Homo sapiens: one gene and its partners. The gene in region 5 interacts genetically with the main gene of each other region. Each region holds a gene or a part of one and is shown on either strand. Other genes may lie near its edges.

Region 1 (3,500 bases), on a different chromosome or scaffold from region 5:
GCCAAAGTATCCCTGAGATCTGCAAGGGACCGAGGACAGTACTGGCTGGTGGTCTGGGTACAGGCCACAGAGGCATCTGGACCCCATGTGCATCTGGACCAGTTTGGTTGGATCCATTCATGGACACAAAACGGATGTGAACTCACAGAGCTACATTTTCTCCCTGCCCCTGTTCAGGCACAGTGAGGTGTCGGGGAATGTAGCTGCCAGAGTTGACTGTCCCGTTCTTTGGTGTAATGCCTGAAGGCCACCTTTACCATTGGTCTGTGGTCCTCACTGAAGAAAGAAACATTCTTCCTAAAAGACTTTTTTTCCTCAGAGTTGGAGCCCACAGCGTGGTCAGGAAAGAGAAGTAGCCACTGGTGGCTCCTGGCATCCTCCTGCTGGGCAGCCCCTTCTCAAAGTGTGAGGGGTCCCCTTGTGTACAAGCAGGAAGGCTCTGAGAAAGTCAGGTTTGCTCCTACCACAGGATAATTCCGATGAACCTGAAAAGCGGGTTTTGGCTTGTGTGCAGGGACTCTGGTGGAAGAAAGGGTGACAGCACCTGGCCTGGGCATGACACAAGTTAGGACCCGTACCAAGAGGCCCTGGAATTGAGGGTGGGGGTTGCTGTGGACTCTTTCTCCCTCTTAGGAAACTCTATTGGGTCTCCATCTGTCACAGAAGCAGTAAATGATGTAGGGGCTGCCAGGTATAGGGTCCTGTGGGGATGCTGGAACATGCCGAGGCAGGACGTGCCAGCCACCCTCTGCCCATATGTGCAGCAGGGCCACAGATGTGCTTGTCGGTAGGAGAGACCAAGCTGTCTGTGTGCCGATGTCTTGACACCTGAGACTTCAGGTTCACCCATCCTGGTTCTGCCATTCCATTGCAGGGTGGCTTCCCTCCTTTGGGGACTCTTAACGCTTTGGTCTGTTAAAAAAAAAAAAAAAAATCCGGGCGTGGTGGCTCACTCCTGTAATCCCAGCACTTTGGGAGGCCGAGGTGGGCTGATCATCTGAGGTCAGGGGTTCGAGGCCAGCCCTGACCAACATGGTGAAACCCCGTCTCTACTAAAAATAAAAATAAAAATTAGCTCAGCGTGGTGGCACGCGCCTGTAGTCCCAGCTACTCGGGAAGCTGAGGCAAGAGAATCTCGAACCTGGGAGGCAGAGGTTGCAGTGAGCCGAGATCGCACCTGAGAGGTTGCAGTGAGCTGAGATCAAGCCACTGCACTCCAGCCTGGATGACAGAGTGAGACTCTGTCTCAAAAAAAAAAAAAAAAAAAAAAGCCACCAATGGGGAGGGCCTGGGATTACTGGCATCACAAACCCCACTGCCTGCAGGCTGCATGATCTCCTGGGCATGGTTGGCGGCACTGCCCCGGGCATGAGGAGGCAGCAGGCATGTGTGGATCACGGACAGTGCTGGGGTCGAGGGGGTTGGTGACGGTGTGACACCCCTTCCCCTGAGTGGCTGGGTGTTACTGTCAATTCTCCCAAGTGCTGTGCTTCAGTGGTCGTGGCAGTCTGGTGCTGCCTCTGCCCAACTGGCAGGCGACCCTTATTCCTGAGTCCCTGCTGACTTGGTGTCCTAGGTTTATTCCTCCTAGACTTGTTAACTTGTACAGTTAACAAGCCTTTGACACCACACACCCTCGCCTCAGCTTTCCAACCCCCTAGTAATAACAACATCAGGACTCCCTGAGTATCCTCCACCATATGTTTTCCTGGAGTAACTCATAAAAGGCCCTCTTTTCGTTCCATTTCATGCTTGGGTTTTTCATGCGAACCTGTCATTATTAGTTTTTCCGCATTGCCTAGAGTTGCCCAACCCCATAATAAGAATACGTAGGTGGCGTGCCCCATTCTTGCAGGTGTCCACTTCCTGCTCCAGTCTGAGGGGGTTGGCTAGGCTGCTGCTCTCTCTCCATGTGGGGTTGGCTAGGCTGCTGCTCTCTCTCCACGTTGCTGTGGGCTCGCATCCTCTCCCTGGTTCCCTGGGGGAGCTTCTTAGGGAGGGAGCATGTGAGAGATCTGAGGCCCTGCAGTTTGGGAGTTATTTTCATTCTCCCCTAACACTTGTTGGATACTTTGGCTGGGTATAGAATTAAAGGGTTTCGAAAGCAGTGTTTCAGAGTCTTCCATTCTCTGGGGCATCAGAGGTGTCATTTGCCCCTGTGCATTCTGGAGTCCACCTTGCACCTTTATTGGGTCTCATCTAGGTCCTTGGCTTTGCGCTTCAGCCCTTTGAGGCCGAAGCCCAGATTCCTGGGTCCCCACTCTGGAACAGGGAAAAATTTCACCCCGTAATTTCGTACGTTCTTTCTTTTTAGGGTTTCTGTTGGTTGATATCTTAAGTTACTCCTCATCTTCCTTTTTCATTCTGTTTGTTTTTGTTCTGCCTTCTGAGCACCTTCATTTTGAATTTTCCTTTTCAGCTATTTGTGTATCTATCAGGTTTCTCTCCTTGTCCTTTGTTAAAATAGTATTCTGTCTTCAGTCTCCTGTCTTGGTTGCCTCCTTGCAGATTCCTTTTATATTTGGGTCTCTTATGTTGGTGGCCTTTCAAAGGCAGACAGGCCTGTCTCTTGGTGGGGGGTGGGGGTGGGCGGAGCTCCAGTTGCTTGTGTGTGGATCTGCTGGGGCATATAGAACTCTCAGGAATTATTCTGGAATTTCATGGCTCAAGTGTGTTGTCATGGCTCAGCGCAGGCCTAAGCCCTGCTGCAGCTGCTCCCCTAGACCAAGCTTGTCCAACCCTTAGGCCGCATGTGGCCCAGGATGGCTTTGAACCCGACCCAACACAAATTTCTAATAAAACATTGAGATTTTGGGGGTTTTTGTTTTGGTTTGGTTCACCAGCTGTTGTGTTAGTATATTTTGTGTGTGGTCCAAGACAATTCTTCTTCCATTGTGGCCCAGGGTAGCCAAGATTGGACATTGCTGCCCTAGGCAGTCCCAGCTTCATCCCTTGGGTCCCAGGCGGTCCAGTTTTCTCTGCCTGGTCAATCATCACATCCAAGGTCTTCCTCCCTTTTCTCTCTGCCCTTCAAGGCGTGTGTGTCATTTTGGTGTCTTCATTGGTAGTGGTTGCAGGAGTGGACTGAGAGGGCAGGTATTCAGTCTCTTCTGTGCTCCATGGGTGGTGGTCTTCCTCTGGGCTTAGAAAACCTGGCCGTCCCCAAAAAGGGAACACTACAGTGAAGGTCCTTATAAATTTCAGAACTCATTTAAATTTCAGAATAGGTGACATGTTCAAAACCAAGAGCAAAGTGTCCAAAGGACACTGATCCAGCTTGAAGGGGTTCTGTGGCTCATCTGGGATGATGGCAGTGTTAAATCAGACACGGGCGGCCAGTTCACACCCACTGAAACACACAGGCATGTGTGGGCTCTTGCTGATGTTGAGAAATGGAGAAGAGGCATTTCCTTGCCGTAGCGTGCTGGGGTGACTGGATGAGAGAGTCACCAGCGGACAGTCATGGCTGTGATTCAGCCAAAAGCCACCTGTGTGTGGAA
Region 2 (3,500 bases), on a different chromosome or scaffold from region 5:
AAGCTGAAGAGACAGGGGCCAGGGCTGCTGTAGCTGGGACCAGGCAGAAACAGGACAAGCAAAACTGGGGGCGGGGAAAGATGGAAACGGGGCAGAAAGGGCAGCTCAGACTGTGAGGGGACAAAGGTCACTGTGGTTCAGGAGCCTCCCACCGTCCTGAGCACACGTGTGCACCTGAGCGTGACTGTGCACGCAGTGTCTGCAACCAGACGGAGGGGGAGGGGGGAGGGGGAGGGGGAGGAGGAGGGGGAGGGGGAAGAGGAGGAGGAAGAGGAGGAGGGACCAGGAAGGCAAGGCACACAGCGAGAGGAGCGCAGGATGGAGAAGACCTGAGGGGACTGAGAGGCGAACGAGGCAGCGGCTGGAGCGGGCGGGCCGAGGGTAGACGTGGGAGGGCCAAGCAGGGACCCGCACAGACACTGTGTGCCCGAGACACAGGCGGGGTCCCTGACAGGGACATGGCCATGACCTTCAGTCAGTGGAGAGGAAGAGGGAGGAGGTGGCGGGGAGGGGGACACAGACCCGTCTCAGAAGATGCAGAAAGGCCAAGGGAAGGGGACACACTCTCTGGGAGGACCCGCTAAGCAGCGCCGCAGCGTCTCTCCGGCCCTCCACTCGCCTGACACCCAAGGGACACTTTCAAAGCCCAACAGCTAAGGACATGTGGCCACGTGCTGGCCCCGAAGTGCTCTGTACACCAGTGTGGACTCAGCGACACTCGCCACGTCCCGTCCACACGGGACAGGACAGGACGCGAGGAGAAGGGGCGCCAGCTCTGGGCAGCCGGAGGGGGACCGGGAGGATCTAGAAGCAACCCTCAGATTCCCGCGCGCTCAAGTTTCCCAAGATCAGAGGCAGTATTGGAACACAGCATCGGTGATGAAACAACGTATTTAGAAGTAGACATTTTCGCAAACTGCAGGAGTGTCTGAAACCACAGGGCTCGCCTGGTCCGGGCACAGTGCAAGAGGCGCTGGGTCCTGGGGGAGGCGCCCTGAGCGCTGTCTAGGAATGCGGCTGTCAAGAGGCGACATCACCACTGAGGAAGCGGGACAGAAACACCTGAAACTTCGTTTACACCCCACTGGAGCAAAGCCGCTCCCTCCTCTGACTGCGGGACTGGCCTGTACCTGTGTGATATAATTTAGCACCTGGAGAAGAGAAATCTAAAGAGATATCGTTAATCACACACAATTCACAGAGAGAAAAGGAAAAACAGCTTACTTAACATCACTGTACTTTACTATGAAACACTTAAGTACGTCACTAAGCATGTATGTCTAAATTAAGTTACGACTAAGACTTAACAGCGTAACCGACATGGAGGAGGAGCACTCCTAACCGTGGGGAGGGAGGTTCAAATGGCAAACTATGCTCCAGCATGGTGGGCATGCTGCGGCGCCACCTGGCGCTCGGGGCTGCCCCGACTGACCTGGGCCGGTGGTGCGGGGGCGGCACGGACGTGGCGGGCAGACCCAGGCTGCAGGTCTGCTCACGTGGCCGGCCAAAAGCAGCTGATGAACCAAAACCATGCGGGCGGGCGGGACAGACAGCAGCAGCCACGGAAAAGGGGCACAGAAACTGGGCGCCCATCGTCCCAGCTCCACAAACCAGCATGGATGGGTGTGCAAGAAGCTGAGGGAAAATGAGGGGAGGCCCTGAGGTGACTCCTCACCCCTCCTCCCACCTGCCCTGCTGACTTCAGAGAGGGGAGAAAACTGAAAAAAAAGAAAAAGAAAAGAAAAGGAAAAAAGAAAGAAAGAAAAAAAAAGCATGGGATGGATCACGGAAAATCCAAACTCCACACCGAGCCAGCTGACCCAGCTGACGACACGAAATGAGACCGGCCACACTGGGAGGACTGGATGAGGGTGAAGGAAGGTCAAATGCAGAAGGACCACACTCTTCCGGACAGTGAAAAACAGAAGCCAGGCCGAGACTCATGACAAGTCGTAAAAACTTCAAAAGAACAAGCCAAAAAACAATGTGTGACGTCTGACCTCGGGAAGCACAGACAGGCTGAATGGGGTGCACATGAGGAGCCCACGTTTTAGTCATTTGTCTCCAAATCGTCCCTTCCTGAGGCTGTTTGCTACAGCCGCCACCTGTGTGTGCCTGGCGGGTGAGATAGTTTGCCATCTGAGGGAGGAGCAGGGAGAAGGCCGAGGTCAAACTAGATCTGCCCTTACCTCGGGGCCTCTGCTTCTCGGCGTCATAGATCATGACTACCTCCGTGACCTGGAAGGAGAGGGTGGCGTCAGCACGGACACCAGGGCCAGCACCACAGGTGGTCTTCCGAGGGCACAGCCTGTTCCCACGAACCCAAACTCTCGCACAGGGTGCGCCCTCCCTGAGCGGGGGAGGTGCACGGGCAACAGCTGCTCCGTGGGGCTGCTGTCTGAGAAAGGCTGGAGCCCCAACACTCCCAGGGCCAGACGCAGGCAGGGAGAAGCAGCTCCAGGGCAGGCGTCTGGATACCCGCCTCCGGGCTGCCCGTGGCCCCGCTCACGTGTGTGCTGACGGACATGAAGGGCCAACAACGCCGACCACGCATCCTAGCAGGGGACGTGGGAGCCAGGAGACCCCACAGAAGCCCTTCCCACCCAAACGCGGGAAGCAAAGGGCACGCTCGGCCCTCACTCGAAGTGGCGGGGCAGCCACACACAGCTCCTCTGCAGACCCTGCTCTTCCAGGCCCCGCTCAGGCCTCTCATTCCTGGCCCAGGCCCGTGGCACCCTCAGGTACCACCTGATGAACGTGCGCAGTACTCAGGCACGCAGGGCTGTCCTGCTGGCGGGGCTCGGAGTGTGACCTGCGGGGCACGGCAGGAGTCCCAGCAGGACCTTGGGGTGACCACACGCCCCTGCCTTGGGTGACTAGGAGGGCTCCCCGCCGGCCCCCTCCGGCTGTCCCAGCTCCCTCTGGCACTGGGCTCAACGGAGCTCGGGCATTCTCCCACCTGCCCAGTGGAAAGTCAGCTCTGTGGGGCTGGCTCGCCCAGGCCACACTGAACCCCGTTTCTGTGTAACTGCCCTTCTCTGACACTGGACCCCACGGTGTTCACAATGGAATCGGGCGGCCGCCCTGAAGGCTGTCAGGCTGGTTCACCGCCCAACCACCCTACTGGGACACGAAATGGCCATGAAGGCAAAGGCCGGGCTTTCCACCTTTCCGGAGGGCGCAGGCGTTGGGGAAATACGAGACAGCGAGCTCCCAGCCTGAAAGGCCCGTGCACCTGTGGCTCGGCCACTCCAGCCCCAAGAAGGCCCAGGCCTGAGCAGAAGCGGCTCTGTCCCCACAGTGCTGCCGGGGTGGGGAGAAACTCACCACTCCGAACTTCTTGAAGTATTCCCTGAGCTCTGTCTCACCACAATTGTGAGGAATTCCACCGACAAATATCTTATTTGATTTACTGTTATCGCTCCTGGGTCCTTTCTGCTGTTGAAGAAGGGAAGGATAGTTAGTTCACACGGGAACCCTCCAAACCCTCCCGCGAGCTG
Region 3 (3,333 bases), on a different chromosome or scaffold from region 5:
TGGGCGGATCATTTGATGTCGGGAGTTCGAGACCAGCCTGGCCAACATGGTGAAACCCCATCTCTACTAAAAGTACAAAAAAATGAGCCAAGTGTGGTGACGCCGTGCCCGTAATCCCAGCTACTCAGGAGGCTGAGACCCAAGAATCGCTTGAACCCAGGAGGCGGAAGTTGCAGTAAGCCATGATCATGCCACTGCACTCCAGCCTGGGTGACAGAGTGAGACCCTGTCAAAAAAAAAAAAAAAAAAAATTACAATCATCAAAACTAGAAACAATCTAAATGGGTAATTATCCATATACCTGGAAAATGGATAAACAGATACATCCATACAATGGAATCCTACTCAGCAATATAAAGGAATGGACTGCTGATACCTGTGACAACACGGATGAATCTCAAATGCATTCTGCTAAACAGAACAACTGCAGACTCAAATGCTACATACTGAATGATTCCATTTATATGACATTCTGGAAAAGACAGGCCACCAAACTGGTCTGTAAGCCAAATCAAGTCATTTTTTAATGGCACATAAGCTAGCAAGTATTTACATTATTAAATGGTTGGAGAAAACAGTATTTCATGACACATGAAAATTACACAAAACTCAAGTTTCAGTTTGCAGAAATAAAGCTCTATTGAAACACAGCCACCTGCATTCCTTCATCTAGTAATTACCTGGCTGCTTTCGTGCTACAACAGCTGAGTTCAGCAGCAGCAACAGAGACTATAAAAGCCCACAAAGCTTGAACTATTTACTGCATGGCCCTTTCCAGAAAAAAATTTGATGACACCTGGTATAGGGACAGAGAATAGCTTGACGGTTGCCACGGTAAAAGGTGGGGAAGGAGCTGACCACAGGGAATTTACTGGAGGGTGATATAGCTGTTAATTGTGGTGGTGGTAGTGACTTGACTGCATTTGCCAAAACTCAGAACTGTACACCAAAAAGTAGATTTTAAAATATTTTATTTTAAAATAAATGTCAATGAACAAGAGGGACAGAAAACACCAGTGGTTGCTAGGGGGCAGGAGAAGAGAGGAACAGAGGAACAGAGGGGAATGTCCTGGGTGGCAGAACTGTCCTATCGATTGGTTACAAAACCATGCATTTGTCAAAATTCACAGACTAGACACTAAAAAGGGTGATTTTACTGAATGTAAATTATAAACTTTTTCATTTTTAAAAAAGAGATAATGAAGGCCAGGCATGGTGGCTCACGCCTGTAATCCCGGCGGCACTTTGGGAGGCTGAGGCAGGTGGATCAGTTGAGGTTAGGAGTTTGAGACAAGCCTGGCCAACATGGTGAACCCCGTCTCTACTAAAAAATACAAAAATAGGTTGGGCATGGTGGCACACGCCTGTAATCCCAGCTACTCAGGAGGATGAGGCAGGAGAATCACTTGAACCTGGGAGGCGGAGGTTGCAGTGAGCTGAGACAGCGCCACCGCAATCCAGCCTGGGCAACTGAGTGAGAATCTGTCTTTAAAAAAAAAAAAAAAAAGATAATGAAATGAGAGGAGCCAAACATTTACCCTAAGTGGAAAAAAAAAATTGGGCTTATGATAGGTTTTCTCTTATAGACAGTAAAAAGAAGTGCCAGGAATTTAAAGCAAAGAACAGTAAGATGAGAGAGATCTCCAATATACAAAATGTTTCAAAATTTTTTTTTAGTACAACATGCTTATACAAGAGGTAAGACTTATTTTTGTATTTGATTTGATAATTTGACTTGGAATTTTTCTGTGGGAATAAAAGTGTTAGAATGCTTATTTTTAAATTTCTCAAAATTTGCAGGCAGTAAGCAAGGCCTTAAAGCCATAGAGGGCTCTAAAACTAGTTCCATAAAGCATTTTACTGTAAAAATATGTACAGATCTTTAATAGAAAAGTATATTTCTTTACAGTAGAAAAATATCTGAACAGTCAACTTTTCTTAAGACAAAAATTCAAATGTAACATACTACCTAAACTATAAATTTAGCTAAAACTGAATCGAGCTGTTTATAAGAACTGATTCCAAAATATACATATATGAATTTACATAACCGATATGTAGAAGCTCTTCAAAATCGACTGTAAATTGAAAAGTTAAAATTGGCCTTGCCTCTGCAGTTTGGAGCTGCAATGGCTGCCAGTATCGGCTGTTTTCTTGGTGCCTGAGCTGCAGGGTGGGCCTGTCGAGGAGGGGCTGCTGTCTGGGTCGCTTTCCCTCTGGCTGTCTGTGGCGTAGGTACATGAGGTGCTCAATCTCGGCCTGGAAAGAATACCTCGAAAGAATACCACACACTGGAACTCTGTGAAGAAGTGAAGACGCTAAAAGCGGGCAGTGCTGTGTTTACTTAGAGACAGTGGAGTGGGTCCAGGGCTGTCCTCGCCAGGCTGGTTTTTAAAGCACTTTTGGTTTAGGAGTCAGCTTCATCATGGTCACTTTCATTATCATTGTCATTCTCCTCATCTTCTTCCCTCTTTTCCTCTTTAAGCATTTTCAGGTATTTACTAGCTAAAATCTTCTTTGGTAATATATCTTAAAAACATAAAGCGTACATCAGCAATTGGTTATGGTAGACTATGAACACAGCAATGCACATTTCAAAATGTACTAGTTCCTGCTTTGACCTCTATAAGAGGTTCCAAAACAAGATGAAATTCAGGCTGCATTTCTGGGTAAAATATCAAAGAAACTAGCATTGTCTCCTAACGAACGCTATAGGCCTCTTTCCAGTCCAATGAGTACAAACCATGGTGTCTCTATGAGCTGCTTTTATGAGCAACCCTGCCCGACTACCTGAGATAGCCTAGGCTAGCCCCAGGGTAGACTTAAGCTCTAACTACGGCCATGTAGACCCACCCTGAGTTTTCCCTTCAGTGGCAGGCAGGGTCCCTGTAGAGAGTAAAGGACTGCCCAGCATACGCGGCCAACCAACATCTTGTGAATGTTGTTGGCTTCACTATTGTTCTAGGTGGACCACATGACAAACACATTCAAACAGAGAAGACTAAAAGTATCTTCCTGTGACAACTCATAGTACTTTGCGGCTTGGAAAAAGTAGCAAAAAGTCTAATTTTCCGTGAGAGCAGAAGGGAGGCAAGGGGTGGGGAAAGAGCTATTGATTACTAATCATTTTTTAACCAGAATGTTTCAAAGACTAAGTACCTGCAAGAAACTGAAAAGTTTCTGATTGCTGTGCAGTGTTTGCTAAATCACTGTAAGTCAGTACTTTCTTTTCCTTTCCACTGCCGTGTCTGTAGGAATAGGTGGCTAGGCATTGAACAAAGAGCTCCTAGAACAAAATGAAAAATGCAAATGAAAGGTGTGCTTTGAAAATGT
Region 4 (3,500 bases), on a different chromosome or scaffold from region 5:
TCCAACTGGCTGATCAGTTTTTCTGTCAGAATCTAAGAACCTTAACCTTAAAATAATCTCAACTTATTTCTCAAGCACCATTATATGTGTGTATATTATATTTAAATGTACCAATATATTTATAGCACTAGAAAAATATGTATCTTTTAATGCATTGAGTTACTAGACAGAAGTATTAAAAAGGCAAAAATTCCTCTTTAAGGAAATAGCTTACATCCTATAAGTGCTCTTACAGGTAATGAAAAAACTGTGTCTGCAATTTGTTCCCTAATATGTCATAAACCAAAAATAGGCTCTTGGGAGAAAGTAATATCTACTCAACATAGCTGGTATTTAAAGAACTTAAATACTGAATTTCAGTACTGTCTCTGTCATAAAACATTGTATTTCCTGGGGCAAGTAACACCTTAACAATGTTTTATAAAAAGCATCAGCAGTTAGCATATGGGTATGAAAACACTTTGCCATTGAATTTCTCATAGATGGTATTAAAAAGTGTCCATTCATGACTATACAACTTTTAAAACCCTAGACAAATAAAAATCCACATGCACTCACTACAAATAAAATCTACACTCTCATCAGACAAAATCTACATTCTCAATACAACCCCAACTGCAACGGCCAATAAATTTACACAAATAAAAATATAATCCAACTTGCTAAACAGGACCCAAACGTATTATCTCGTGAGACACCAGTTATGATAAATTTTGGACATTCTATTTCATTATTCTGTAGTTTTGTTTGTTTGTTTTTGAGATGGAGTCTCGCTCTGTCGCCCACGCTGGAGTGCAGTGGTGCGATCTCGGCTCACTGCAAGCTCCGCCTCCCAGGTTCCAGCGATTCTCCTGCTTCAGCCTCCCGAGTAGCTGGGACTACAGGCGCCCACCATCACACCCAGCTAATTTTTTAAAATATTTTTAGTAGAGACGGGGTTTAACTGTGTTAGCCAGGATGGTCTCTATCTCCTGACCTCGTGATCCGCCCGCCTTGGCCTCCCAAAGTGCTGAGATTACAGGTGTGAGCCACCGTGCCTGGCCTGTTTGTTTGTTTTTAGAGATGGAGTCTTGCTTTGTTGCCCAGGCTAGAGTGTAGTGGCTATTTACAGACACAATCATAGTGCACTGCAGCCTCTAATACCTGACCTCCGGCAATCCTCCTGCCTCAGCCTCCCAAGTAGTTGGGACTACAGGTGAACAACACCTCGCAAAGTTCTGTTTTTTGTTTTTACACTTTGTATTTGCTTTCTTACAATATTCTATTCAAAACTTTGGTCACTAGCCCAACTCCTTTTTGAGGAACACATTTAGAAAACAATGTCAAAAGCTTTATGGATATACAATTAAGGAAACACAGCATTACATAACTATATTTAGGCAAGGGCAGTTTCACCCACTGTTTACTGAGTAAGAGTGAATAAGGATGGTCTCTCTCCATTAACACAATGCATGGCTCCTGCTAGCATTTGATAAATTTGAACTATTATTACTTGAAAGTGCAACTGTTCAGCTGGAGCAAAATACAGGCAATACAACTTACTGGACATTTCATCTGAGACGAGTAGATCTGGATCTGCTCCCATCTTCATATTTGGTATTCCCTCAGCCCATCTCTGTATGGAGGTGAGGTGGCTTTCATTCAAATATGTGCCCCTGTCAGACATACACTGGGTCATGCCACCACCAGGGCTTCAGTGGAGGAAGTCACGGTGAGCCTGAAGGCCTGATATCACCTACCAAGAGCCTCAGGGAACCCAGCCAGCAAAGCAGCAGCGGCCTTGCTCTTATGACATAAAACAGTTTTTGGAGAGTGCCCAGAACCAGGGTGACAGAAAACTCTGTGAGGGTTTCAATAAGGTGCTGAAACAGTGCAGACTTGCAAACAGATTGGTCTAATCAGAAAGTTCGAATTGGAGAAATGGAAAATCAGCTCTCATAACCAAGTGATTTAGCACAAAAATACAATTGATAGTGAAGGTATAAAGTGTAATCATCAGGTAAACCTCTCCTCTCTCATAGCGTCCCTGCTTCAGGACTGCAATGGAAAAGGAAATTCTTACTGTGTAGAATTTCATTAAGATGGCTGGGTAGATGTTTGTGTGGCACCCTTGAACTAGCCGTTATGATTTTATTCTTTGTTGAGTTAATTAGAATAAAGTGATTTTCCTCAAAAAACAAACAAACAAATATGTGCCCTTGTCAGACTGTTCCATCGTGATACCCCCACGATAAACCATGCCTGTTAAAACATATGGTTCCGTGATTCACCAACAACAGAAAACAGATGCATTCAAGGAACTTGTGAGGAAGCACAAACTCAAACCCCACTGCTGATAAATTCATTACAAAAGATCCACTGAGAAAGTATGGAAGGTAGGTGAAGAATGTGCAATCCACCTACTCATCTAGATAATCTAAAACAGATCCTTAAATCAGCCTAGAGATCTAAGTACTCGGATCACATTATTTTGCAGGCAAGAGAAATGCTTTTACGGAATGTTTTGATGTTATGTCACCGTCTTACACAAAAAGCCAATAAGGAGTTTTACTAACACACAAAGTAAAACTCGACACCCAGCCCTTTGAAACGCATGCTGGAAAGTCTTTGGGAATCCAAAGCAGAAATGATCTCTTTTGTCGTATGGTCACTGACCCATGTAACTGATTATATTTCTCTCTTAATTGGCTACTCAAAAGCAAAGCCAAATTTGTGGCCCTCTGCACTTAAGACTTCAGTCCAAGTGCTCTGTGTACACAGCTCATTCCTGTTTCCATCTTAATTTTCCCTCAGTCCTGCATTCCTCACCCACTTATCTGTTATGTTACCAACAGTATGTCGCACGTATCTTTGTAAGTCATTACAAACCCTTTCTGGAACAAGATGTGGAATAATGGAATAAGTAAATGATATGTTCCACTGAAAAAAATTATAGCACAATAAGAAAACATTTTCTTCGATTAATAAACATTTTCTATGTTCAATTTCTAATGGCATTTTCTTTTATGTGCTCCAAAGTACCTTCTAAAGGAAAAATGAAAGTGCTTAAAATTAGAAAATTCTAATTTTAAGAATTTAAATTTCCTCTGTACAACAGAGGAACTACAAAAATAAAACTTTCACTATGTATTTTTAACTGCAAAGCACACAGAAAATTATAAATATACCCCTATGTGAAAATCCCCCAAAAGCGATTTTTAATTTTAGCATACAGACCAAATCACCATAAATTCAATTACAGTTGTGTATTTATTTTGAATGGGAACTGAACAGACTAGCTTCAAATGTGGTTCATAAGGTCTTTGTACAATTCCTCCTGAGTTGTTCTGTGCCTAGCATAGAGGATGCTGCCAAACCATTCCTTAGGGTGAAACAGCAGAGAATTTAGAGCCCTCAAAACTCTTGTTACATTCCTGCTTCAGAGATTTCAGCAATCTGCTCACTGTTACTGGGGGAAAATTAAAAAGCTTAATACTCTCTCAGTGTGTAATATTTTACGC
Region 5 (3,500 bases):
TATGCTTCCCAAATGTCAACAGGTCTCAATGTCCACAAACACTGGGGCTGCTACCCTCCCCCATCCCCACTTAAAGCCACATCACATCTTTACAAATAACTGGAAAACCTCCTCTTGCTAAGCTGATGCCAAACACCATTTTCCAGGAGGGATCAGAGTGCATCACTCATTAGGCACTTTGTTGTCTCTAAAGTGTTCAGAATTTTCCTTCAGAACATCTCAGACTGGAAATCAAGAAACTATATCCGTAACATGTGTGCAACTATTATATATTTAGTACAATTGAGAAGAGCTCATCCCCTGGACTCAGCACCTGTCCTAAGCTGGCTAAGAAAAGCAGTTCAAATCAAGTTCGCCCACAGGCGCAAATACCTCTTCCATGAACTAGGTCTGATTTTTAAATGAGTTTTGAAAACAAATTGGGGAAAATCACAACCTATAAAGAAATGTATCTTGTATGCTTTACAATTAAAAAACAAAAACTTTCAGGATTTGTCTCCTCACTCTTACTCCCTCACGCTTTTAAAAACACCAAGTTATTTACAAATTATAAAATGCCCTGAAATTATGAATGCTTCCTGATTTCTAGAAAGCTAACTAAGCAATATGTAATCCAGAAAACTTCTGAAATAAGTTCCATCTTTCTTACAACTCAAAACATGCTATGCAACGTTCATGTACACACCTGTGACTCCTAATTTTTGGAAAAAGGCAACTACAACACTGCAGTTTGTAAATCACAATTGCCATATCCAATGTTATAAAGAAGACAGTGCCGCCAGTCAAGATGGGTTAACATCACCTGTATGTCACAGTCTACAGTGACATCCCAATATAACGGAAAGCACCAATGAGGCAAAAAAGGTATAGGGTAAAGGCTTCTGATGAACAACACTAGAGTCCTAAGTCTACAGAAATATTTTTAAAAGAACCTTTAAAATGCTAACTACTGTCTACTTGAAAACTGCACCCTATACTGAGTCTGAAAAAAAATCTGAATTTCAAGAAAGGTGGTTTCATGCAAGACTCTGCAGGTTCATGCACTGAGTAGCACAAGGTCAGCTTTCATACAGTAGGTGCACAATAAGTGCAGGCTGGATTCAGTTGCTTCTTACAGCACATTCTTACAAAACAAATGAAACCAGATTTAAAAGGAAACCACCGTCCCTTGAGGGTTCCTCTTGGCAAAAACTCTAAGGCAACAAGTGAAAATGATACAGTTGATTTTCATTACTGCCCTGATCTTGCAACAATAGGAAGGGCAGGAAACATTTTTATTAGTAAACTAAGCCTTAGACAAAGACCAAAAGCAAATGTAAACAACAATTATTCTCTAGGTCTTTTCCTATTGAAAGGCCAGGGTAAATCTGGATAAATGCACACAGTTTCAAAACAAAAATGCCTTTGCCACATTTTAAAACCTTTCGTTCTGTAAGGAATTTTAATTTTATAAAAATCACTGTATACTTGAAACAGTGTATCCTAAAACTACTGCATCCTAAAGATTCTTTCTCCTGCTCAGACCCTGGAACTATGTAAGAAATAAAATAAAACTGCAAAGAAAAGAAACAACAATACTGCATTAAAATGAACTGTTCTGTTCATCCTCAGTCCTTACTACCACTTGTGGTCAATGTGGCATATCAAAAAATGAGTGTTTAAAACATCTTAAAACAGCAATGTCTTTCTTTGTTGGAAAACATAATAAAACTGGAAATACAAACAGCCCTTCAGACTCAGCTCCTAAACTCTATCCTGAAAAAAACCATCATTTCAGATTCAGCTGAGGTTTCTATTGTCAAAAATCTGCCCTCCACCAGCATTTGTGTTTTTTAAATCCAGCTCCTCAATCCCTAACTGAAGCTACATAGAACCAAGATTCTTTTTCTCCTGCTTGCCCATTTCTACTGCGGGATTGAATCCCTGTTGCTAAGCTTCAATTATCAGTTTGTTGTATTGCTGCAACTCACGGATCTGAAAAACTCATAAATGAAAAGAGAGAGAGACATCAGCCTGTCAAATGTATGTAATAATTTTAACGTAATTTAAGGTAGCATAACAAGTTATTTTCAACCTGATCACATTTCTTTAAAAAAAAAAAAAAGGGTTTATTGAGATATAATTCACATACCATTAAAGTCCCCGATTTAAAGTACATAATCCAATGGTTTTAAGTATATTTAGAGCTATGCAGCCATCGCCACAAACTAATTTTAGAACAATTTTCATCACCCCAAAAAGAAACCCTGTGCCCACCAGCAGTCACTCCCCATTCCATCCGCCCCCAGCCCCTGGCAACCACTCATCTACCTTCTGCCTCTATGGATTTGTTTATTCTAGACATTTCACATAAACCGGATCATACGATATGTGGTCTTTTGTGACTGACTTCTTTCACTTTTTGTGATATTTTTAAGCTTCATCTATTCAACCTTAGCATATTTCTTAGAGTTGAACTTTTCTAATCTTTTTCGACAAATCAAACATTATGACCTTTTACATTTCAAATCCTGACACAAACCCCACCCTTCCACAAAACACCATTTGCTTGCTATGTCTCTCCAGAGGATCTAAACTATAATTTGCTGTTTAGGTTCTTTCAGAAGTTCTTTTTCTGGGTTCTCCTTCTGGTAATAAAACACTAACTTCTTTAAACACCAACATTTCACATACCTACATTTCTGTGACAACAGGATGCCTGGGGTAGAAAGATGACTGAATCCTTTTAAGGAGATGGGTACAATAAATTTAAAGTGCATGCTGACTTTTTAAAAACAAAATAGCCCTCAGATTATCTGGCTATCACTCAGAACCTCCGAACCGCCTTCATTTAGATGCTCTGTTCACATTATGGTGATACAAAACAAACACATCCATATGACTGCCTCTGCTTCAGAAACTAAGTTTTCTAAGATAAACAACACTCTTTCTACTGCCATCACACTCAAAGAGGAAACTCTAATCTCTCAATACGCCAGCAAAATACCTGCAACTGAACCAACACCCTGTCTTTATTTCTCCACCAGACAACAGCTGAAAGAACGCCCTCCCTGATAGGGCTCAGCAGCTTATTTCTATCAGAGTTAAGTGGTCTAGCACCTTCCCGGCTAAAAACTGAACGCCCGTTCACAGGCATAGCTTTTAATTCTCCACATTTCAGAGATGGAGGGAGGGGCAGGTACTGAGTCAGTCAAGACTTCAGCAAACCATAATCGAGATTTGGGGTGCCTTCTGACCACCCATCAGGTTTCCAGGAACTAACCACTGTAAAGGGATCCTGGGGGGAAGCTTTGGTATCATGGAGTAAAAACATACATTAAAACACCCCCTCCCTCCTGCCTGTGTTCTCAAAAATCGCCGTCTTGCACAAAGAATATCCTTCAAGAAGAACGCTCCAAAAGAAAAACAGCCTATTTTAAAATGCCCGACTCCTGCGTCGGCGAAGGCCATCCCTGCTGTTTTGAATTTCAGAACATTAAAAACACAAAACTAGAGAAGCT
Region 6 (3,500 bases), on a different chromosome or scaffold from region 5:
TTTTGTATATCTGAAAAGTTCCATGTCCTATAACAAAATTCTTGATATTAAACACAGTATATTATATTGAAAAACAAAAATTCCTCATTCAGGTAAATGATACAGTTACAATTCAGACTAGCCCCAAAGGTAGCTCAGGAGACTTAATCAAGACAATGCTAAGAAAACCCTCCATGGGTAGCAACTATGGTCCAATGTTAAGACAGGCCAAAAAGTTACAGATTTATACTTTAAACAGCAAAATCTGTCGGGACTTTTTTGAGGGAAAGGATCTAGGGACTATTCACTAAGCAAGTGGGCACACAGCATTTTGCATCCACTGCCACTTCCTCCTCCAATAAAAAGGGCTCTGGATCTTTCTTACACGTCAACTGGTGTTACACTGCCTATTACTTTTGCACTTTATAGTTTACAATATGCTTATCAAAATCTTCACAGACAACCTGATTTTTCTCAGACACATGAGTAAATTACAAGGGTGAAAGTTGCTCTAGCAAAGTCTTCTTCTAAAACATTGTATAAATAGGCACAAACATCTTACCTTAATATCATAATGGTCCTTCAAACCATCTTCAACATGATTTAGAAATTCAAAGATATCAAGTCTATCAAGACAACTGTCTAGAAGTGTGTACATACACTCAAATGCTGCCTTTCTAATATCCAGACCATCATCAACCGTATGTTTAAATGGACCCATTTCTACCTGTTAAAGCAAAAAAGAACGTGTGGATATACAATACTTAAGTCAAAGACAAGCTCAAATAAACAGTGTGATCTAACTTACCTCTCTTATAAGCTCCTTTCTAACTTTTGTTTCATTGTAAAGATGTGGAAGAACAGTATCCAATAGATCCCTTATTAATGATGGCTTGTTATGTGCTGCTGAATTAAATGTGACCAAGGCTACTCTTCTCACATTCAAATCTGGGTCTTCCAAAGTTTTTAGGAAATCACCTGAAATATTACAAGAAAAGCAACAGACAGACATGATAAACTTAAAATACAATATACATTATATTTTCTCTAAGTTGATATAATTTATTTTTGCTGGTGTCATTGTTATTTCTTCAGTGACGGTCAGGGAAGAACCTGATGAAACACTAAGTGAACCATAACGTTTCTTTCAGCAGCAACGCAACTATCATTTCTGAAGGTGAATATATTTTCAATTGATAATCCACTCTCAGCACTTATAATGCAGAGGGTATGGAAGAAGAGTCCATAAAGTTCCTCAATATCACTTCTATAGATATAAGATATGACAGAGACAGAGCTAAAAAGACTAATCACATGCTTGATTCTCCTTGTAGTTCACTAAAAGCAGCAACAAAAATATTTTTAAACTAAGTTCAAAATAAGAATAAAAAAATGAAGTGAAGACAGACCCACTGCTTAATAAAGATGGAGTACTATTAGCAGATATACAATTAATCAAATGAAAGAGAAACGTGCCTCCAAAAGCCCTACTTTATTTCTGTCTTCAGTAAGAAATACACGAATTCACAGGAAAATAATATAAAAGGAGAAAATTGAAAGCTAACATAGGACAAAAGCCAGAGAAGCCATCTAGGTATTTTAAAAGTCTGCTTACTCTTGCAAATGTGGGCAAGAAAGTATAATGCAAAGATCTTTGGAGTCACATGGTTGGTGGTTCAAATCATTTTACTTGTTAAATGTATGATTTTGTGCAAGTTACTTTAGGCAAGAACCTCAGTTTCTCAGTCAATAAAATGAGGATTATAAACCTTTTAGAGCTATACTGAGCAGAATAAACGGCGCATATATTGTTGAAGACAATGTCTAGTACACACTAAGTATTCACATGTAGCTATTATTCATCATTATATGATCTCAACTCTATCATCAGCAATCTTTTAGAATACACAGGGAAATGTAGGAGAGATAAAAGACTTGAATGCCAACTTGAAAAACCTGCAATTTGAAAATATGGGAGGAAAGAGAGACTTCAGATACTGTAGATTGGGAAACCCAATGTTGATATCCAAGAAAGTTCCAGCACTGATTTAAAAAAAAAAGTCTGAGAAACAGCGTGGTTTCAAAAACAATATAAATGTACCAAACTAATCTCCCCTCCCCTTTATTTGCATACTAAACTGGTAGATTAGAAGAGTAATTACAATAGAGTATATATCCGCTTTCAGTAAAGCATCTAAAATATTGCTATTATGGACAAAATGGTGTCATGAACTAGCAATTTCAATTTTTAAAAAGTTTCCCAGGTGGTTCTGATGTTCAAATAGTCATGAATACTTAACTAGATCATAATTCAATTAGAATGCTAACTACCTGGCTGAGTAACTGTATCAACAATGCATACTGGTTGACTGCTGTCAACATGGAAAGATATTTCTAGAGATATGGCATGGGCCTCTTCCTCTGTCCTATTTTGCATAATACCAATGTCCTCAATAAACATATCAAAGCAGAAAATGTGTGGGGGAAATGCCAATAAGTTGTTTCTCATATAGACTTTAAATAATTTCTAGGCCCTAGCAATAGAACCCATTTGTGCCTGTGCTTTCCTTATTCTGAATTGGCAATCCCTTTCTATGCAGTTCAAATTTTATATTGTATTTTTTTTCTTTCTGGCACACTGAAGAATGGCACAAAGCTACAAAGCTTCTTTGCCAAATCCCTCAATCCTCCCTGATGGTTATCTCCATTATCCTGTCCTCAAGAAAGCAACAAACTAAATTCTGAGGTGTTTTTGGCTATTATCAAACTCTAGGAAAACCAATGATAAAAACAAAATGCAAGGAGGTTATAAAATCAGAAATAATCCCAAAAGCTAATTCTTGTCTTCACAGAAATAGAGAAGCCCTAGTTTTTCTTGGGTTATCTCCTCTTAGTTCTTCTGGGAATTAGCTCTCCCCCCCTTTATTTTTTATTCTTAGGTTATTTTGACCTTAAATATGGAAATCTCCATAGATCTCCTTGGGTGTTAGAAGTAATAATTGAAATTTGAGGCCTTAATAGCTCAAGCAAGACTCATTTAAATCTAGGGAGAAACTTCAGACTGGCCATATAAATCTAGTATCTTTTTGCTTTATCCACTAAAGCTATCTTAGGTCACCCCAAAAATATGGCTATCAAATATGTAGTTGACTCTAAAGACATGCTGGTATATTATAACTTCATTTATGTGCAAAATCATCTAGGAATAATTACAAACAATACAGGCAAATGCAATTTGTTAAAAGTTGTAAGATCATATCAATTTTCTTTTAAACAATTATTTTATAAGCATTTTAATTCCTCGATATTTCTAGTTACTAAGTTCAAGAGTTTCTTGAGAATTCTAAAGTCCAAAAATCAGTATGTTTATCTTTGTTTCCACTTACCTATGCAGTTCTTTAACAGTGGATCAATAGGTTGTGGATGGTCAGAAATTGTAAATTTCACAGCCGTAACCACTGAGCTTCGGGCATATGATGAGCCTAGTTAAAAATAAATTGCAAGTCTATTGGTATGTAGTC
Region 7 (3,500 bases), on a different chromosome or scaffold from region 5:
ATGCTTATTTAATGTTGGATTAATACTGATCAAACTTACAAAAAGGAATGCTTACCTGGTTTTAAGCCAGCGGTGAGCTTCACATCTCTGATTTGGGTCTTTTCATGGGACTGAACAGTCACAACCAAACAATACATTTCATTAGTCAGTGCAGGGGGTTCATGTAGCAGATGTACAGAAATGTTTGGGACTCTGGATATGATCCTTTGAAAAGAAACCTTAGCTAAGTAACTGATCAAAAAAAAAGCAAATAAATTATTCAAATAAAGTATTTAAAAGAAATAAGAGGCTGGGTGCAGAGGCTCAGGCCTGTAATCCCAGCATTTTGGGAGACTGAGGCAGGAGGATCGCTTGAGCCCAGGAGTTTGAAACAAGGCTGGGCAGCATAGTAAGACCCTCATCTCTAGAAAAAATACAAAAATTAGTCAGGCATGGTGGCACCTGGCTGTAGTCCCAACTACTGGGGAAGGCAAGGGTAGCGCCTGAGGTGGGAGGATGGTTTGAGCTCAGGTGGTCAAGGCTACAGTGAGTCGTGATCACACCACTGCACTCCAGCCTGGACAAGAGAGAGACTCTGTCTCCAAAAAAAATAGCAAAAGAAATAAGAGGATGACCTTTAATATCAGCTTAGCAAAGCAGACTTACATTGTGCTTGCCTGAATTATAATGCTGTCCCAGTGAACTTCATTGTCAGGTAGCTTAGGTCGCCTTTTGAAAGACCGAGCTGCCTGTAAGGCTTCTTGGGAGGAAGCAGCATCTCCTCCTCCTCCCTGCCAATTTAAAACCACACATCTTCCCGTCTCATTGCCCAGAGCAAGATCCACTGAAGTAATCTAAAAAGAAAAAAAAGGATGTTGGAAATGTCATCTCATATGTGCTTGTCACCATCTCCTCTCACCAAAATTACATCGTCGACTGCTAAGACCATGGAGTTCATCTAGAGACCCCCAGTGTGACAGAAGTGAGAACACCTGCTATTAGAGGTCTTACTCGGGCTGGGACAGAGACTAACTGCGCTCTGGGTTCCAACTTCTTCACCTTTAAAACAGAGACACTAACCTGACTTTCTGTTGACAGGCTGATTGCACAGTAGTGTTATGATTTTAACATCTGGCATAGTCCCTGATGTAATGAAGGTTCAATTAGTGGTTGCTGAATGAAATAAGTATTGTGATGGCTATGGATACATTATAACCTCATTTCCGACTCCACAAATATTTTTCTCAAAAATATTTACAGTATTAGCAATAAAATGCTTTATTAATTGAATACATGATCTATTCAACTAAAACCATTAACAAAAGGACTCAAAATAGAATTACTAATTATTATTTATGTCTGGTAGGTTCCCTTAGGTACCATGAAAAAATAAAATATGCAATTAGGGCATTTAGTCAAAATCATGAAAGTTTTTTTTTTTTTAATGAATAAGCAAATAATAAAAGCAACATGTTCACAGAAACTGTTATGGGAACACTGGTTGTATAACTTTATATGCCATTTATCTTAGCAATGGTCCCAAGTTTAGATGAGCTAACCATTCCCATTCAAGTCATGAAAAACAAGCACTTAATGAATGCTTACTGTGTGCTAATCACTATTCCAAGCAAGTTACATTAACTAGCTGATTTAATCCTCATGAAATCCTAAGAGATTAGTACTCTTATGATCCCCATTTTACAGATGAATACACTGAGACACAAAGAAGCTAAGTAACTGCCCAGGGCCACAAGCTAATAAGCTAGAGAGCTGTAATTTAAACCCATACAGTTTGGCTCCAGAGTTTATGCTCAATAAAGATATTACTTAGATCCTATATTTCTAAAAGGCATTTCAATTATCTATACTATATCAATCTTTACAAATATATATGTTCATTTTTCTTTAAAAATATGTACTCAGTAATGCTTAAACATCAAAAGATATTCAGTCTGAATAACATAAAAAATATATTTGCTATATTACATAATATACATTATTTAAAACTCCTTAACTGATTATGTGGTCATTAAAAAACAAGATTGGTTTATATACTAACAAGAAATAATATCTAATATACACTATTAAATGACAAAAGCCAGCTACAGTTTATTATGTACAGTATATTCTCAATTTTTTAATTGCAAAAAATTTTAAACTACAAGTATGTTCACAGAAAAATGTCTGAAGGAAACTTCCCAAACTATTATGAATGGTTTCCTTTAGGAAGTCCAAGTAGCAGATTTTCATTTTTTACTTAATCAACTTTTGTATTATTTAAAATATTGATATAAACATACTTTTATTATTAAAAATATTTTAAAACAAATTTCATAACTAACCTCAATTTTCTTTCCCACATCTTCAGTTTTTGCAACAAACTTAAATAACAGTTTTCTTGTTTTGCCAGGAACTAGGCACATCTTTCCTTGAGTCAGATTTTCTAAAACTTCATTTGCTTTGGATGCTTCTTCTATTACACAGAACTGGTTGTATTCCTGAAAAAGGTGAACAGGGGTCATCAAATGTCAGATGTCTGCTAACCCTAAATGCCAAGTGCTTTGGAGCTCATTTAGTATAACTCCACAAACACTGAAGCATTATGAAGGGTTACTAATAAAAGGAAGTATTTTTTATGCCAAATAGAGGCATTTATCCACTTACTGCTGCCATAATATAACAGTTCACTACACATAAACTGTTTTCTGAAAATATTTAGCTATCCCTCTCCCAGAGAAACAGTTTGTTCTTTGTTGCACTGGACACTACTGTTTATCACCTCCTTTTCTTGAAGAGCCTTTTTTTACTTGGCTTCTGTGATGCTATAATCTTTCCTGTTTCTCATCCTGCTTGGTTACTTCCTGTTTTTCCTACCTGGAGTGCAGTGGCATGATCTCGGCTCACTGTAGCCTCAACCTTTTGGACCCAAGGGATAGTCCCACCTCAGCCTCCAAAGTAGCTGGGACCATAGGCATGTACGATCACACTAGACTAATTTTTCTATTTTTTGTAGAGATGGGGTCTCACTACGTTGCCCAAGCTGGTTTCAAACTTCCTGGGCTCAAGTGATCCTCCTGCCTCAGCCTTCAAAAGTGTTGGGATTACAGGTGTGAGCCACCAAGCCCAGCCCCATTCCTTTGCTTTCTTTCAGGTCTTCATTTCTCTCTCTGTTCACTTCATTGGAAATGTATTTGTTTCCACGTTCACCATACCATTGTTGCTAGTATCTCTCACATACAGTTGTCCTATTCTGTCTTATTTCCTTAATTACAAGCTTATATCCACAACTGTCTAGAGGACAAGTCCACTACCACTGAAACTCAGCACGTCCCAAAGTGAATGTGCATCTGCCTTCCCAGAAGAGAACAATCCTCATAGATGAGTAAAGGAAGACAGCTTTCATGTTTCTATCTATGGAATCACTATTCTCATCTGTTCAATAAATATCAAGACCTTTCCAAGAGCCATCTTCTATTCCAGCATATAAATTACCTTCATAGAAATTCTTACACAGTTCAAGT

The links.
Region 1: changes in IGF1R (region 5) and ARF1 together harm fitness more than expected from each alone (negative genetic interaction), as found in Homo sapiens cells (one large-scale study listed by BioGRID).
Region 2: changes in IGF1R (region 5) and DAZAP1 together harm fitness less than expected from each alone (positive genetic interaction), as found in Homo sapiens cells (one large-scale study listed by BioGRID).
Region 3: changes in IGF1R (region 5) and CHRAC1 together harm fitness less than expected from each alone (positive genetic interaction), as found in Homo sapiens cells (one large-scale study listed by BioGRID).
Region 4: changes in IGF1R (region 5) and RABGEF1 together harm fitness more than expected from each alone (negative genetic interaction), as found in Homo sapiens cells (one large-scale study listed by BioGRID).
Region 6: changes in IGF1R (region 5) and CAND1 together harm fitness less than expected from each alone (positive genetic interaction), as found in Homo sapiens cells (one large-scale study listed by BioGRID).
Region 7: changes in IGF1R (region 5) and TRAPPC11 together harm fitness less than expected from each alone (positive genetic interaction), as found in Homo sapiens cells (one large-scale study listed by BioGRID).

What each region holds. Positions count from the first base shown.
Region 1 is NC_000001.11:228,092,708-228,096,207, forward strand, and holds part of ARF1 (ADP-ribosylation factor 1), read left to right. Parts: intron 1-3,500. UniProt on the Homo sapiens protein: Small GTPase involved in protein trafficking between different compartments. Modulates vesicle budding and uncoating within the Golgi complex. In its GTP-bound form, triggers the recruitment of coatomer proteins to the Golgi membrane.
Region 2 is NC_000019.10:1,421,086-1,424,585, reverse strand, and holds part of DAZAP1 (DAZ-associated protein 1), read right to left. Parts: intron 3,439-3,500; coding exon 3,328-3,438; intron 2,239-3,327; coding exon 2,190-2,238; intron 1,167-2,189; coding exon of another isoform or gene 1,075-1,166; exon of another isoform or gene 876-1,074; intron 1-875. UniProt on the Homo sapiens protein: RNA-binding protein, which may be required during spermatogenesis.
Region 3 is NC_000008.11:140,514,322-140,517,654, reverse strand, and holds the end of CHRAC1 (chromatin accessibility complex protein 1), read right to left. Parts: intron 3,287-3,333; coding exon 3,160-3,286; intron 2,530-3,159; coding exon 2,408-2,529; 3' UTR 501-2,407; downstream 1-500. UniProt on the Homo sapiens protein: Forms a complex with DNA polymerase epsilon subunit POLE3 and binds naked DNA, which is then incorporated into chromatin, aided by the nucleosome remodeling activity of ISWI/SNF2H and ACF1.
Region 4 is NC_000007.14:66,747,233-66,750,732, reverse strand, and holds part of RABGEF1 (rab5 GDP/GTP exchange factor), read right to left. Parts: intron 1-3,500. UniProt on the Homo sapiens protein: Rab effector protein acting as linker between gamma-adaptin, RAB4A or RAB5A. Involved in endocytic membrane fusion and membrane trafficking of recycling endosomes. Stimulates nucleotide exchange on RAB5A. Can act as a ubiquitin ligase.
Region 5 is NC_000015.10:98,651,539-98,655,038, reverse strand, and holds part of IGF1R (insulin-like growth factor 1 receptor isoform 1 precursor), read right to left. Parts: intron 1-3,500. UniProt on the Homo sapiens protein: Receptor tyrosine kinase which mediates actions of insulin-like growth factor 1 (IGF1). Binds IGF1 with high affinity and IGF2 and insulin (INS) with a lower affinity. The activated IGF1R is involved in cell growth and survival control.
Region 6 is NC_000012.12:67,307,358-67,310,857, reverse strand, and holds part of CAND1 (cullin-associated NEDD8-dissociated protein 1), read right to left. Parts: intron 3,462-3,500; coding exon 3,366-3,461; intron 958-3,365; coding exon 788-957; intron 707-787; coding exon 542-706; intron 1-541. UniProt on the Homo sapiens protein: Key assembly factor of SCF (SKP1-CUL1-F-box protein) E3 ubiquitin ligase complexes that promotes the exchange of the substrate-recognition F-box subunit in SCF complexes, thereby playing a key role in the cellular repertoire of SCF complexes.
Region 7 is NC_000004.12:183,690,293-183,693,792, reverse strand, and holds part of TRAPPC11 (trafficking protein particle complex subunit 11), read right to left. Parts: intron 2,478-3,500; coding exon 2,322-2,477; intron 834-2,321; coding exon 646-833; intron 205-645; coding exon 56-204; intron 1-55. UniProt on the Homo sapiens protein: Involved in endoplasmic reticulum to Golgi apparatus trafficking at a very early stage.